2 separate regions of the Homo sapiens genome follow, and region 2 is linked to region 1. Evidence: fine-mapped expression QTL. Tissue or cell type: whole blood. Region 1 holds a variant in brackets; the other region holds the start of a gene. All regions are shown on one strand. Distances are between the middles of the regions.

Region 1 (8,113 bases):
AGGAATCTCCTTTTGTATGGCCAAATAATATTTTTTTAATGATTTTTCTTTTCAGACACCAATTTAAAAACTGTTATTGATGAGTTTACTTCCATTAGAACCAGTAAAGTATAATTTTAATAATTCTAGTTTGGGAACTATAAAATACTTAAATTTAAAATACTTTTTAGGTTCTAAAATAATTACTTTTCAATGTTTCAATGTTTTTAACTACTTCAGTGTTTGAGGGGGAAGCACAATAGAGGTGGTCAATACATTTTTTTTTCTGAGACAGAGTCTCACTCTATCACCCAGGCTGGAGTGCAGTGGCGCGATCTCGGCTCACTGTAAGCTCCGCCTCCCGGATTCAAGCGATTCTCCTGTCCCAGCCTCCCGAGTAGCTGGGACTACAGGCGCCCGCCACCACGCCCGGCTGATTTTTGTATTTTTAGTAGAGACGGGGTTTCATCGTGTTAGCCAGGATGGTCTCAATCTCCTGGTCTCATGATCAGCCTGCTCCGACCTCCCAAAGTGCTGGGATTACAGGCGTGAGCCACAGCACCCGGCCAATAAATATTTTTTGAGTGAATGGATCTGTAATTTTCTGTACACAATTATTTGGATTATAAGATAGCAAAGTTATTTCACATTATATTCATGGGATTTGCAGCCACTTAGGGTTTTCCATATATAATATCTGTACATATTTATGGGGTACATGTGATATTTTGTTGCATGCAGAGTTTGCAATGATAAAGACAGGGTATTTGGGGTGTCCACCATCTTGATCATTGATCATTTCTAGCTGTTGGAAACATTTCAAGTTTTCTCTGCTAGATATTTTGAAATATGCAATACAGTGTTGCTAACAATAGTCACCCTACTCTACCAGTGAACTTCAGAACGTATTTCTTCTACTCATGCATTTTTTTTTTTTTTTTTTTTGAGATGGAGTCTCGCTCTGTCACCCAGGCTGGAGTGCAGTGGCACGATCTCGGCTCACTGCAAGCTCCACCTCCCGGGTTCACGCCATTCTCCTGCCTCAGCCTCCCTAGTAGCTGGGACTACAGGCGCCCACCACCACGCCCGGCTAATTTTTTTGTATTTTTAGTAGAGTCGGGGTTTCACCGGGTGAGCCAGGATGTTCTCAATCTCCTGACCTCGTGATCCGCCCGCCTCAGCCTCCCAAAGTGCTGGGATTACAGGCGTGAGCCACCGCGCCGGGCCGCATTTTTTTTTTAATTGTCTCCTTTCTCCCTCTAGCGGAGACATATGAGACCACAAGGGTAAAAAAAATGTACCAAGTATAGCTTGATGTGTGTAGTACGAAAAAAATCCTGCATGGAGGTCACACCTTTATCCACTTACCTTAGAAATATAGAGCTTCTTAAGGTGACTATATTTCAGACCAACATGTAACACCGTTGTACAGACAGACAAAGCCTTAGGCAAATCTTCTCTCAGGAAAAAACTTTATTCAAGTAGTACAGAATTTATTATCCTGATATCTCAGAAGAAATTGAGATCAAAATTCTTTCTTTTTACATTCCAAATTGTTGCAGTCCAATGCAGAATGTTGACCATACTTTGGTTGTTGTATCCATCAGCAATTGCTACAAATAAATGCTTCATAACAAATAACTCCTGAAACTCAGTGTCTGAAAAATGATACTTTCTTGCTGCTCCTCAGTCTGTTTATGGGTTGGCTGAGCAGGTCTGCTGATGTTGGCTGGGCTCTCTCCTGTGATTAAAGCAGCAAGTTGGCATGGTGGCTGGCTGAGGACAACCTCCACCAGTGTAACTGCGGTGACTTACCCTTCATTCTGTGTTTCTCATGTCCCTCCAGCAGGCGGGCTTGGGCATGTTCACATGGTGGGGGTAAGGAAGCAAGGTGAGCAAATGTAATCGTGTAACTGGTAAGAAGGATTACACATACGATTTTGAAACTTACGTTCCAGTCACATTTCCTAACCTTCCACTGGCTGCAGCAAATCTCAAGTCCAACCCCAGAGTCAGACAAGGAGAGAGTTACAAAGTTACAGGAAAGGGATGTGGCTAAATGGAGACCATTATTGGGCCCATTGATGCCATTGACCTATGACAATTGGCTATGGATAGGAGCAGTGCCATCTCTTGCTTCCATCTCTCTAAGAACTATCACCTCTGTATTGAGCACTCTGGATAAGCCAAGCGTTGAAGACTAATTTATCATAGATGAACTCTTGTTCACAAACATGTGTCCCACCTCCCAAGTTAGGCTGCCAAGAATAACAAAGACAGAGCCTCCATCAACTGAGTTTAATATTGTTAACAAATTGTCCAGTGCATGATATGACTGAGCTAATTGAATCCTAACTGCTTAGGTGACTCAGAGTAAATATTATTCTAGTCTCTGTAACCCTAAACTAAGTATTCCTGGCACGAAAGGAAGAGAAAAAGGGGAACAAGGCATCTGGAGAAGGAGCTTTATGGTCAAGAGCTCAAAACCCAGCTCAACGACCTATGTGGCTGTGTGATCCTGGGATAGTCACTTAACCTCTCTGAGCTTCAGTTCCCCTGTCTTCAAAATGAAGAGTAATCATTCTAATCATTCATTCATTCATTCATTCAACATATTTGTTGAGACGCTACTTAATGCAAATCTCTGTACTTACGAAGCTCACAGTCTATGTTGGAGACACCCAACAAAAAGAGAAATCATAATACAGGGTGAGAAAGCATGAAGCTTTTTGGCACACACAAAAATAATGCCAAATTCTACTGTAGGAGATTCAAAGAATGCTTCCTAGCAGAGGGGATGACTACACTGCAACTCAAAGAGACAGAAGACATCAATTGAGTTTTCAGGGAAGTTATTCTAAGAGAAGATGCAAAGGGTCCAAGTCAAGAAGAAGACATTTCTCTCTGGCTTTAAAGACAAGCTCTGCTGTCAGCATGGCAAACAGAAGAATGTTCTACAATAGTGCTTTTCAGACACCCATGGTTATATTCATCCCCTGGGGATGTTAACATGCAAGTCCTGATCTAGGAGGTCTGGAGTGGGGTCTGAGATTCTTCTTTGCTTTTCTAACAAGCTCTCAGGTGATGCTGATGATCCAGGGACCACGCTTTGGATTGGGAGGTTTTACAGTGCCCATAGAAGTGAAAATACCTGCATTTAAACCTTCATCTTCTTCTCTCCCAAGCTCAAGAATTTAAGGATGGTGGCCGGGCGCAGTGGCTCATGCCTGTAATCCCAGCACTTTGGGAGGGTGAGGCGGGTGGATCATCTGAGGTCAGGAGTGCAAGATCAGCCTGGCCAACATGCTGAAACTCCGTCTCTACTAAAAATACAAAAATTAGCCAGGCGTGGTGGTGCACGCCTGCAGTCCAGCTACTTGGGAGGCTGAGGCAGGAGAATCACTTGCACCCGGGAGGCAGAGGTTGCAATGAGCCGAGATCATGCCACTGCACTCTGGCCTGGGCAACAGACCGAGACTCTGT[C/A]AAAAAAAAAAAAAAAATTAAGGATAGGTAGCGATAACTGTGATAGAGAAAATCCTAAATCCTAGCCAAGTCATTAGAAAGTTTCTAGAAAACAGGGAGGTCTTGGTTACCTGAAGGACCTCAGGAAACCAAAGCACTTTCCAAAGGTTGTTGTCACCAAGTGCTTCAACCCTCCAGGGAGTGCTAGAATTCTGCTACATCAAACATCCCCCTACTTACCAACACAACTATTTTTAAGTGTTTGTGCCAAAGTAGCTTATCTGTCTATGTGCCGTCTTGGTTCCCTGGGACTCTCATTACAGTTTTACTGACCATTTCTTTAAAATCACAAAGAGTCTTTATCCTAGGGTAAATCAGTCAGACAGGCGACAAATCATTTATTGAGAGGTTCTCTGTATCAGGCGTATGATAGGCTCTGGAGGGGCATGCTTAGAACCATGCACCAACAAGGGCAGGAGAAAACAAAATGGTAGCCAGGTGTTCTTGGTCATGCCATTGAATTTGGGTCTGTTCTCAGAAACTCTGGAATTGAAGAAGTTGCAGAGCACGAAGATAAAATGGTCGTTTGGAGCAGAAACGCCTGATTTCTCATCAGTGCATACAACCACAGGAAGACCGCCCCCAACATTCTTCCCCAGAGGGTTCTGGGGCTGGTGGGATCCTCATTTCCATGTTAAGCTGAGAAGAGATTTCAGGGTAGGCTCCTGCAGGAAACTACTGTCCTCAACTGTGGCTCCATAGCATATTTGAAAGCAAGAAAGGACTTTAACCCTGTGAGAGAGAAAAGAATTTCCTCAGAGTCTGCAGCAGAATTAATACAAACGTGATTCCAAGGGTCATGTCTACAGGGACAGAAGTATTAAAAATACAGTAACAAAGACTAGAAGGATAAACACTAAAATGTTAAATGCGATTGTCCCTAGTGTGGCAGGCAGAGTTGGAAAACCCAAAAGCCATTCTCAACCTCCTCAGCATTGACAGCGCCCACTCTGGACTTTAGGAAGCCAAACAGCTGTTGGTTCAAAATTTTTTGCCCATATGAGTGGTCACATGATACACTTCTGACCAATTAGGTAAAGGGAAATCTGAGAGTTTTCTGGGCTTTCATTTACTGTTAAAGACAAAGACATGAAAGAAGGGCTTTCTGGTCCTGTCCATCCCTCTTCTTCTTGACTTGAACATAGTCATGATGTCTGGAGCTGTGGCAACCATATTGCAACCATGAAAATACAATAAAATGTCAACATGTTGATGGTGGAATGGAAAACTGGGGAAAACCCAGATTCTTAGTTTAGAGCCTTTACAACACCACTAAGCATAGAACCAGCAACACCAGCAATATTCGCAACACCTAATTCTGGACTTCTTGCAAGGAAAATCATTTCCCTATTTAATTAAGCCACTGGATCTAAGGTGCTTGCATCCAAAAATATGACTCACTGGGATCTGTATGTGGTGGGATAATGGGAAATTTTATTTGTTTTCAATGCTTACAAATGTTTTCTAAAATGTTCTATACCTATACTGTCTTTTTCATTAAAACTATAGTAAACTGCATTATGTTTAAAAATGTATTGCCAAGAGAATATGTCATCCATGATATGGGCAATTTTTCCAGTGGGGTGATTCCTGTGGCTCATTCTGAAATCACTGGACTTAACCTCTATGACATTCGGTTTCCTCATAATGAAAATAGACCAGCTGGGCGTGGTGGCTCACACCTGTAATCCCAGAACTTTGGGAGGCTGAGGCAGGTGGATCACCTGAGGTCAGGAGTTCGAGACCAACCTGGCCAACATCATGAAACCCTGTCTCTACTAAAAATACAAAATTTATCTGGGTGTGCTGGCGGGCGCCTGTAATCCCAGCTACTTGGGAGGCTGAGGCAGGAAAATCGCTTGAACCCAGGAGGCAGAGGTTGCAATGAGCCAAGATCACACCACTGCACTCCAGCCTGGGTTACAGAGCGAGACTCCATCTCAAAAAAAAAAAAGAAAAAAAGAAAGAAAGAAAGAAAGAAAAAAGAAAATAGAGCAGTGATACCTACCTCACTGGACTTCTGCAAGGCTTAACACTGAGATCCTGCTATGTCCGAGGCACTCTTCCAACCCCATTGCATACTGGTTCATCTAATATCTAGTATAACCTTCCAAGGTAAGGATTACCATTATCCCCATTTTATCAGTGAGGAAACTAAGCTATTGAATTATTATTTACTCAGAAAATATTCACTAAGAACTTACTGTGTGCTAGACAGCATTTTAGGGGCGTGGAATACATTGTTGAAAAAAATAAGACATTCTAGTGGGAAAACCAGCTTTGCCTCCATTTGCATATTCATTCCAATATTTCAATATTCCTGAAAATCTACATATATAAATGTTATCCATAATACATAAAAATTTTCTCTATATAAATATACATGTGAAGATATCTATATTTATTTAATTTTTTTTTGAGATGGAGTTTCGCTCTTTTTGCCCAGGCTGGAGTGCAATGGCACAATCTCTGCTCACTGCAACCTCCGCCTCTTGGGTTCAAGCAATTCTCCTGCCTCAGCCTCATGAGTAGCTGGGATTACAGACACCTGCCACCATGCCCGGCTAATTTTGTATTTTTAATAGAGATGGGGGTTTTGCCATGTTGGCCAGGTTGGTCTCGAACTCCTGGCCTCAGGTAATCTGCCCACCTTAGCCTCCCAAAGTGTTGGGATTACAGGTGTGAGCCACCGCGCCCAGCCGGTATCTATATTTAAACTTACATCTTACATTTATATGTATATAATATTATACATTATATGTATATAATAAGTGCATATAAATGTATTTTATAAACATAACATATAAATATGTATTATTTTTAATATGTTACATAATTCATATACAAATGTATCTATGTAAATCTGTTATAAATTATATATGTCTTATTCTTGAAATTTTATTTAAATAGAGAGATAGATAATGTGTGTGTGTCTGCTAATATATACATATAAATCCCCAGTCTTCAACTCCACACTTCATCCATGAGCTAACTAGGGTGGGCACCCTCAGCTCCCATTCAGTACCCAACACGTGGCAGAGCTGAGTGTCACCAAGAGGCCGGCACCTCCCTCGACCAGCACCTGCAGGGAGCATGCAGTCTCTCACCGTCTTGGAAGCGGATGGCATGGAGGACAGCAAGATCCTTGAGGTCTGGGACTGGGAGCTGGGCTTCGTCTTCCCAGTGATCCACCTCTTGTATTCTTCTCGTACCTGGAGAAGGAGACACATCATCCAGATGCAGGGAAATGGTCCAGTGACAGGGATGTTGGGTGGAGGGATGCGGTGGGGAAGGGGGGAGAGGGGGATGGGAGGAGGGGGATGGGGAGGGCAGCAGCTACACACCTGGCCGTTGAGCAGACAGTGGATGAGGAAGATGAAGGCCCCCTGCAGGCTGTTGATGATGGTGAACAGGTAAGCCATGACACCTGCCACAGGTCCAATCTGAAAAATGCCCAGCACCCAGGAGCAGCCCAGGATGAAGAGCTGGGCAAAGGCCTTGAAGGTCAGTAACCTGGGGAGAAGATGTACAGCATGTAAGGCTCTGGGAGGTGGCTATTGTCCTTGCAGGCCACACTTCCAGGAATGGTCTGAGGTGGCCACTCTCCAATTTGCCACCTAGGTGTGGACAAATGTAGGGTGGGGTCTCCAAGCCTAGGTGTTGCAAAATCAAATCCTATAGACATTTAAATGCAATCAGGCTGGGTGCGGTGGCTCAAGCCTGTAATCCCAGCACTTTGGGAGGCCGAGGTGGGCAGGTCACCTGAGGACAGAAGTTCGAGACCAGCCTGGCCAACATGGTGAAAACCCATCTCTACTAAAAATACAAAAATTAGCTGGGTGTGGTGGTGGGTGCTTGTAATCCCAGCACTTTGGGAGGCCAAGGCTGGTGGATCACCTGAGGACAGGAGTTCGAGCCCAGCCTGGTTAACATGGTGAAAACCCGTCTCTACTAAAAATAGAAAAATTAGCCGGGCACGGTGGCAGATGCCTGTAATCCCAGCTACCCAGGAGGCTGAGGCAGGAGAATCGCTTGAACCTGGGAGGCGGAGGTTGCAGTGAGTCGAGACCGTGCCAATGCCCTCTAGCCTGGGCGAGAGAGAGACTCTGTCTCAAAAAAAAAAAAAAAACAAGGATTTGCCACTAGATAGTGGCGGTCACTGCCCAACACTGTGAATGTACGAAAAGCCACCGAGTTACACGCTTTAAAATGGTTAAAATGGTGAATTTCATCTGATGTGAAACTTATTGCTTACATTTTCTGCTATGAGTATGTGTATGTATCAACTTTGTTTTACCTTTTTGTCTTTTTTTTTTTTTGGAGATGGAGTGTCACTCTGTCACCCAGGCTGGAGTGCAGTGGCGTGATCTTGGCTCACTGCAAGCTCCGCCTCCTGGGTTCAAGCTATTCTCCTGCCTCAGCCTCCCAAGTAGCTGGGACTACAGGTGCCCACCACCATGCCCGGCTAATTTTTTGTATTTTTAGTAAAGACAGGGTTTCACCATGTTAGCCAGGATGATCTCGATCTCCTGACCTCGTGATCCACCTGCCTCAGCCTCCCAAACTGCTGGGAATACAGGCATGAGCCACCACACCAGGCCTCCTTTTTGAC
Region 2 (8,113 bases), 53 kb after region 1:
TGGGGAGGCTTCACAATCATGAGGAGCAAAATTATGTCTTACTTACATGGCAGGAGGCAAGAGAGCTTGTGCGGGGATCTCCCATTTATAAAACCATCAGATCTCGTGAGACTTACTCACTACCACGAGAACAGTATGGGGGAAACCATCCCCCATGATTCAATTATCTCCAACTGGCCCCGCCCTTGACACGTGGGGATTCTTACAATTTAAGGTGAGATTTGGGTGAGGACATAGCCAAACCATATCAACAACTACGAACTGACAATGTCTTTCTTCCTTTATCCAGCAAGAGTTTATGTAGATGAGAGTATTTAACAAAACATAAAGAAGTCACTTTTTTTTTGCACATTGAGTTGTAGTTTGAGTAAATTCCATCCCTACTCTCACTACACTACCATTTATAAAGCTCATACTACATACCAGGTGGTTTCCAAAGCTACCTCTTTGAATTAAAGTTTCACAACATCCCTATTGTTATCTGTATTTCACAGCTTGGGAAACTGAAGTTCAGAGAGGTTATGTGACTTATCTGAGATCACACAGCAATTCTAAGCACAAAGGAAAGAGCCTGAAGTGAGAATCAGGAGACTTGCATGTTAACCCTTGCTCTGCCGCTAACTAGCTCCCAGCAAGCATCTGGATGAGGCTCAGCTTCCTGGGATGTTTCCCCGGGGAGAAAACTTTCTCTACCCCTTCAGGCATCTGCATTCTCTCTGGCCAACTTACCCTTTGTGTTTGGTTTCCGTGTGGGTCTTATGTGCCCTTCCCAGCTGTGCATAACACAACATCCTGTGAAGAAAGAAAAGAAAAACACCATGAACCACCAAAAAAAAAAAAAAAAAAAAAAACCTTTTGGGCTCAACCTGCAAAATTACTCCTGGCTTGGCCCCACAGAAATAGGTTTGAAGAGGCTAGATGACAAACCTAGTTAAGGAACAAACATACACTATTTTGCATAAGCTTAACAATGACCATTCCTGGTTTTCTGTACTTTGCTTTTGCTTTTCATTTTGTCTGTCTTTATCTTCTTTTTCTTTTTGATTAAATAGTTCCAGGCTAAGCACTGTGGTGCACACCTATAATCCCAGCCCTTCGGGAGGCCAAGGTGGGAGGATCACTTGAGACCAGCAGTTTGACACCGGCCTGGACAACACAGTGAGACTTTGTCTCTACAAAAAAAAAATTTTTTAAATTAGCTGGGTGGTGGTGACAACTTGTAGCCCCAGCTACTCAGGAGGCTGAGGTGGAAGGATTGCTTGAGCCCAGGAGATAGAGACTGCAGTGAGCCAAGATCATGCCACTGCGCTCCAGCCTAGGTGACCCTGTCTAAAAAAAAAAGTTCTAGCTGATTTTCAAAAACATACATTAAAGCATGCATTCTCAAAAGGGGTGATATATCCTCTAAGGACCCAAACTTGGTTCTCAGGAAGAGATCTTTTTAAGCTTACTCTTTTATGTATAAGATACATATGTATATATAGAAAATACATATATAGGTATACAGTATATCTGTAGTATTAACATTTCATGAGAGGGTAGGGCAATTCGTTTTTCTTTCCTTTTTTTTTTTTTTTTTTTTTTTGAGATGGAGTCTCACTCTGTCACCAGGCTGGAGTGCAGTAGCGTGATCTAGGCTCACTGCAACCACCAACTCCCTGGTTCAAGCTATTCTCCTGCCTCAGCCTCCCGAGTAGCTGGGATTACAAGCACGCACCACCACGCCCAGCTAATTTTTGCATTTTTAGTAGAAACGGGGTTTCTCCATGTTGGCCAGGATGGTCTCGATCTCCTGACCTCATGATCTGCCTGCCTCAGCCTCCTAAAGTGCTGGGATTACAAGCGTGAGCCACTGCGCCCTGCCCATTTTTTAGTGTTTAAAGGCAATGCAGCCCTGCAGCATTTAGGTCTCCTGCACCATCATCATTATCGCCATCATTATCACTATCATCATCACCATCATCATCTTCATCATCACCATCATCATCATCATTATTATCACCATCATCACCATTATCATCATCACCATCACCATTATCACCATCACCACCATCATCATCATCACCACCATAATCACCAACATCACCATCTTCATCGTCATTATCACACCATCATCACCACCATCATCATCATTATCCCTATCATCACCATTATCATCATCACCATCATCACCATCTTCATGGTCATTATCACACCATCATCATCACCATCATCTTCATTATCACTATCATCACCATTATCATCATCATCATCATCACCATCACCATCATCATCACCATTTTCATCATCACTATTATAACCACCACCATCATGATCATTATCATCACTATCATTATCACAACTCTTTGCTGATTATCTTCAGGGCAGAATAGGGAGTGTTAATGGTTAATACCATTGCCAACACCCCAAAATAACAACTCTGCATGCCTACATTTGATGTCCACAGGCCACCTATTTCTTCTAATGTAGCCTGCCAGTCAACAAGTCCCACAGATCTAAACTCCCAAATTCTATCTATTATTACTAACAAAAATTCTTCTACTCATTCATTAATTATTTTAGAGGTAATTCAGCATGCTGTTTAGGCATACAAAGTCTGAAGTCAAAGTGCTTAGGTTTAAAAATCTGGCTTCACCAATTAATGATTGCGTGGCCTTGAGGAAGTTATTTAATCTCTTTGTGCCTCAGTTTCCTCCTTGGTAAAATAGGGTATTCAGATCCACTCTTCAACAGCAGAGGAAACCCATACTTGCTACTTAGAATATGTCCCCAATATCCTCCATTCTTAAATTTGATCCAATGACCAAAACACACAAGACATAGAAGAAAAACCAGAAACACAGAAGATAAACAAGGCTGAGACAAACTGACACCTGAAGAAAGAGAAATAAGAGCACAGGAAGGGTCTATCTCATCCTTCAGGACTCAGCTCGAACTGCCCCTCCTCAACCCCAGACTTCTCCCTTCAACATAACTCCCGACCACATTCTATAACAACTTCTTTCATAGCACTTATCACTACCTGAAATTCCTATGTTTACTTATTTTTTGGGGCAACATAGTATAGTGGAAAAGCTTACAGACTCTGAAGTCAGACTGTCTGGCTTGAAATCCTGCCTCTACCCCTTATTGACTAAGTGGCCTTGGGAAAATTATTTTATCTCTTTTGCCTCAGTTTTCTCATTTGCAAAATAGGACTAATAATGACCCAATGTCATAGAAATGTTGTGACAATTGGATACACTCTATGTTTAAAGAAGTTACAGCAGTGCTAAGTGGGCTATGATCATCTGTGCCTTCTTTCCTGTCTGCTCCTACCCACTAGAATATCAGCCTCAAGAGTGCAGGAACTTAGTCTTTTTTTCTCACTGCTATATCCTCTAGTGCCTAGAACAGCACCTGACACACAGGACTTGCTCAGGTCAAATGAATGACTATAGAGAAAAATCTATCCTAACAGATGGACTTCCCTGAGCTATGGAATTTTGTCAAAGGTTCCCTGAATGAAGGTGTTTGCAGCATCCAGTCTGGACTTATGATCTCTTGGCTGGACCATCCATGGCCCTCCCATTTCTCCTGAAGTCTATTTCCAATCCAGGCCTCCCCTAGCCCCCCATTCAGCCTCACACTCACCCCAGAAGAGGAGCAGGTTGAAGCCACGCATTATGCTGTAGTTCTGTCATTCAAAGAAAAGAAACTTTTCTACTAACGCTGGGTTTTCAGTAACCAGAAGGTGTGCGAAGAGGGGAAGGCGGAGTCAGAGTTGCTCAATGCTGCCTGGTCATCATAGCCCTTTTTGCTGACTTGCTGCAACTAAAAGACAGCCTAGAAAATCCTAATTTCCCCCTTTCTTCACAATAAAGAGAAGTTAATCTGCCTAATGTATATCATTCTCTCTCTCTCTCCTTCCCATGGTCTCTCCCTTTTTCTTTCCCATCAACATCTATCTCCCATCTCTCAACACCTTCTTTCATTGCACCCAATAAAGGAGCTTCCGCTTCCTGCCTCCAGTGAAGCAAATCTCAGCCTTTAGGGTCTCTTCCCAGTCTCCCGTATAAAGACAGCCATCACAACCATCATGTACCAGGCAGTGTGCTAGGCACATTGGCAACAAAGTGTAATTTCATTATCATGTTAACCTTGTAAAGTAGGAATTCCCCTCCCTCCCTCTATTCACCAACAAAATGGAAACTGAGACTTGCAGAGGAGTTATAACTTGTCCAAGATCTCTCAGACTTGAGATTTGAACCCAGGACCCTCTGATTCCAGAGTCAAGAGCTTTAACCATCTTATTTTCCTTCAGATCTCAACTCTGTCTGACGATTATACAGCAACACTTCCACCCCATTCCCAGCTTCCTAACTCTCTCTGGTAACATCTTAGGGTCTCACAAGGGCAGACCCTCAGACAAGGATTCTAGCAAAAGTAGTTTATCAAGAAGGTGGCCCCAGAAAGCACCAGCTGGGGGAGGAGAAAGTGAATCAGGAAAGGCAAAGAGCCAATACTGGGTGTGTCTTCAAATAAGTTACATGGTGAGAAAGTGGAACTTAACCTCCCCAGGGATGACTGGGGAGCGGCATGGAACATACTCTTCAGTTATTCCAACCGAGGGGTGAGGGAGCTGAGGTATTTATATCCCACCTACTGTCAGTCATGGGTTGACTTGAGGCTTGCTCCTAGAGGGTGTCAACCCCTTGAATCTTCAGGCCTGGCCTCCAAGCAGATAGAATGGGCTCCAGTTGATGTAATCCCACTGATAACAAAGTGTAGTGACTGGCAGATATTGAAGCAGTGTCATCCATCTGGGGTAATACCCGAGGTTCATTGCCTCACACCAAGGAAATAGAAAATACAGACATGGCCGGGCACCGTGGCTCACACCTGTAATCTCAGCACTTTGGGAGACTGAGGAGGGTGGATTACGAGGTCAGGAGTTCAAGACCAGCCTGGCCAAGATGGGGAAACCCCGTCTTTACTAAAAATACAAAAAATCAGCCAGTGTGGTATGGTGTTAGGCACCTGTAATCCCAGCTACTCCGGAGGCTGAGGCAGAGAATTGCTTGAACCCAGGAGGCGGAGGCTGCAGTGAGCCGAGATCGTGCCACTGCACTCCAGCCTAGGCAACAGAGTGGGACTCTGTCTTAAAATAAAATAAAATAAAATAAAATAAAATAAAATAAAATAAAATAAAATAAAATGCAGACACACAAAAAATTACTTTTAGAGCAGAGGTTTAGGCCGAGCACAGTGGCTCATGCCTGTAATCCCAGCACTTTGGGAGGCTGAGACGGGTGGATCACCTAAGATCAGGAGTTTGAGACCAGCCTGGGCAACATAGTGAAACCCCATCTCTACTAAAAATACAAAAATTAGCCAGGTGTGGTGGCTCATGCCTGTAATTCCAGCTACTCAGGAGGCTGAGGCAAGAGAATCGCTTGAACCCGGGAAGCAGAGGTTGCAGTGAGCCGAGATTGTGCCATTGAACTCCAGCCTGGGTGACAGAGCAAGACTCCATCTCAAAAAAAAAAAAAAAAAGAAAGAAAGAAAAGAAATTTAATAGGCGAGAGAAAGAGAAAAGCTCTCTCTCCTGCAAAGAGAGGGGGCTCCCAAGTGGGTCTTCCAGTTTCATGGTGAAATGCACGGGGTTTTATAGATGAGCTTTAGGTGGTGATATCTGATTTACATAAGGGCCCAAAGATTAGTTGGACCAGGTGTGCCGTTTACATAGAGTACAAAGAAGCTGGCTGCCCACCCTAATATTTTATTATGCAGATGGGGTCTCTACCTGGCCAGGACCATGTTGCCTGTTCCTTTACCGTACACGTGGTTGATAAAGAAAAGGGAACATGGAGCAAGCCTGCATGTTGAACACGCCTGGCACCCAGGTAGCCTATTCCCATTGGCACAGCTGCCGGCATTCACCCGAGCAAGCTTCCAGCTTGCTTTTCTATGTCTGCCGGCTGATTTTTCAGACTGCTCTTTTTTAGAAAAGAAATTATTTGGCCGGGCGCGGTGGCTCACGCCTGTAATTCCAGCGCTTTGGGAGGCCGAGGCGGGTGGATCACAAGGTCAGGAGTTTGAGACCAGCCTGACCAACATGGTGAAACCCCGTCTCCACTAAAAATACAAAAATTAGCCGGGCATGGTGGCATGCGCCTGTAATCCCAGCTACTCGGGAGGCTGAGGCAGGAGAATTGCTTGAATCCGGGAGGCGGAGCTTGCAGTGAGCCGAGATTGTGCCGCTGTACTCCAGCCTGAGCGACAGAGCAAGACTCTGTCTCAAAAAAAAAAAAATAAAATAAAATAAATGATTTGGGGGCTGCTTTTTATTAAAAGGCAAACCTTACCGAGGACTCTCTTGCCCTCACTCTCTGCCTAAATAACTTCTTTCTAGCTCCCGTATCAGCGTTAAGCTAGGGCATATTAATGTGTTGTTAGGTTATGGGTGTGGGCAGCCACTGATAGCAGCTGTCACAAGGTACAAAGGAGGTGCATAGAACATCCCCGAATTCTTAGAAAGAAAAGCTCCACGTGTTTTTGCCTTCCCCTTTTGTTCTTTGCAAAGCAAACTACCAGCTTTGGAGTTATTGTCACTGGAACAAAGATTCACCAATGGCTTTCTTTTTTTATTTTATTTTATTTTTTTTTCTGAGATGGACTCTCGCTCTGTCACCCAGGCTGGAGTGCAGTGGCGTGATCTTGGCTTACTGCAACCTCCGCCTCCCGAGTAGTTTCTGGGATTACAGGCGTGTATTACCATGCCCAGCTAACTTTTGTATTTTTAGTAGAGACGAGGTTTCACCATGTTGGCCAGGCTGGTCTGGAACTCCCGACCTCAGGTGATCCTCCCACCTTGGCCTCCCAAAGTGTTGGGATTACAGGCCTGAGACACCGCGTCTAGCCAGATTCATCAGTGGCTTTCTGTTTGTGCCTTCATTCTTTCCCCGTTGGCCCCAAGAATACTAGCTGGTGGCGCTTGTGGCTGCAGCATTTACCCAGAGATAACTTTGCCGTGAAATATCTCACCTTTATTATTATTTTTGCATTGCTCTAGTGTATCAACTTTGAAAACAAAAGACATGATTCTATTTATAGTGTTCTGTTTTTAGTAGGGATATTTCCAGATTACTATATTTTACAAAATATGGTATTTTTTACTATATACTATAGTATATTTTACAAAATACAGTAATTCTTGATTGCTGAAAATGTCAGATCCTAGAAAAGTGTAGCATTCCTACGCATGATGTTACTATCATTCTCAAACAGTTGTTGGCTGAAAATTTATCTGATGAATCCAATTTTTCCAAAATTGACGATTCTGATGTTAGTTCTGGTTAGAAATAACTCCAAGAACTGTTTTTATATTTTATTTTCACATTGAAAATCAGTCAGATTTGGCTGGGCACGGTGGCTCACACCTGTAATCCCAGCACTTTGGAAGGCCGAGGTGGGTGGATCACCTGAGGCTAGGAGTTCAAGACCAGCCTGGCCAACATGATGAAACTCTGTCTCTACTAAAAATACAAAAATTAGCCCGGCATGGTGGTACGTACCTGTAGTCCCAGCTACTTGGGAGGCTGAGGCAGGAGAATAGCTTGAGCCTGGGAGGCAGACGTTGCAGTGAGCTGAGATCGCACCACTGTACTCCAGCCTGGGTGACACAGCAAGACTTGGTCTCAAAAAACAAACAAAAACAACAACAACAACAAAACAAAACCCCAAAGAAATATGAATAAAGTGTGTTTTTCTAAAAGAAAAAAAAAAGAAAAGAAGTCAGATTTGCTTCAGCCCCAAAAAGGGTGTTTATGTAAAATTAAGTAAGTGCTGACAGCCAGTTGCACTTTTTTTTTTTCTTAAGGGGAAAATAAGGGACACTGCCTGGAGAGGCTGAACTTAAGAGTCAGCATGAAAATACAGTAAATTCCACCAGGAAGGGGTACAAACAGAGCTGCATTGTGGTTTCCGGAAGCACTGGAGATGAACTCTGGAAACATATTGCCAGAGGTTCAAATCCCACCTCCACTGCTTGCCTCAAATATTCTCATCTGTAAAATGGGCGCATTAAGAATAGGATCTCACCCAGGAGCAGTGGCTCATGCCTGTAATCCCA

The links. PIP is the estimated chance that this variant, and not a neighbour inherited with it, causes the effect.
Region 2: it holds the start of ADGRE1, and the variant in region 1 is fine-mapped to the expression of ADGRE1 in whole blood (INTERVAL, PIP above 0.99).

Annotation. Positions count from the first base shown.
Region 1 is chr19:6,936,144-6,944,256 of GRCh38, reverse strand. ADGRE1 (adhesion G protein-coupled receptor E1) reads right to left here. Exons shown (of 21, transcript NM_001974.5): 19 at 6,846-7,014; 20 at 6,609-6,713; 21 at 3,807-4,233. The coding sequence ends at 4,228. LOC105372256 (a long non-coding RNA gene) reads left to right here and starts at 5,554. Exons shown (of 3, transcript XR_936288.4): 1 at 5,554-5,616. The variant C/A (reference allele first, on the strand shown) is at 3,463.
Region 2 is chr19:6,883,160-6,891,272 of GRCh38, reverse strand. ADGRE1 (adhesion G protein-coupled receptor E1) reads right to left here and starts at 3,694. Exons shown (of 21, transcript NM_001974.5): 1 at 3,634-3,694; 2 at 730-792. The coding sequence starts at 3,664. RefSeq lists an enhancer at 3,641-3,700.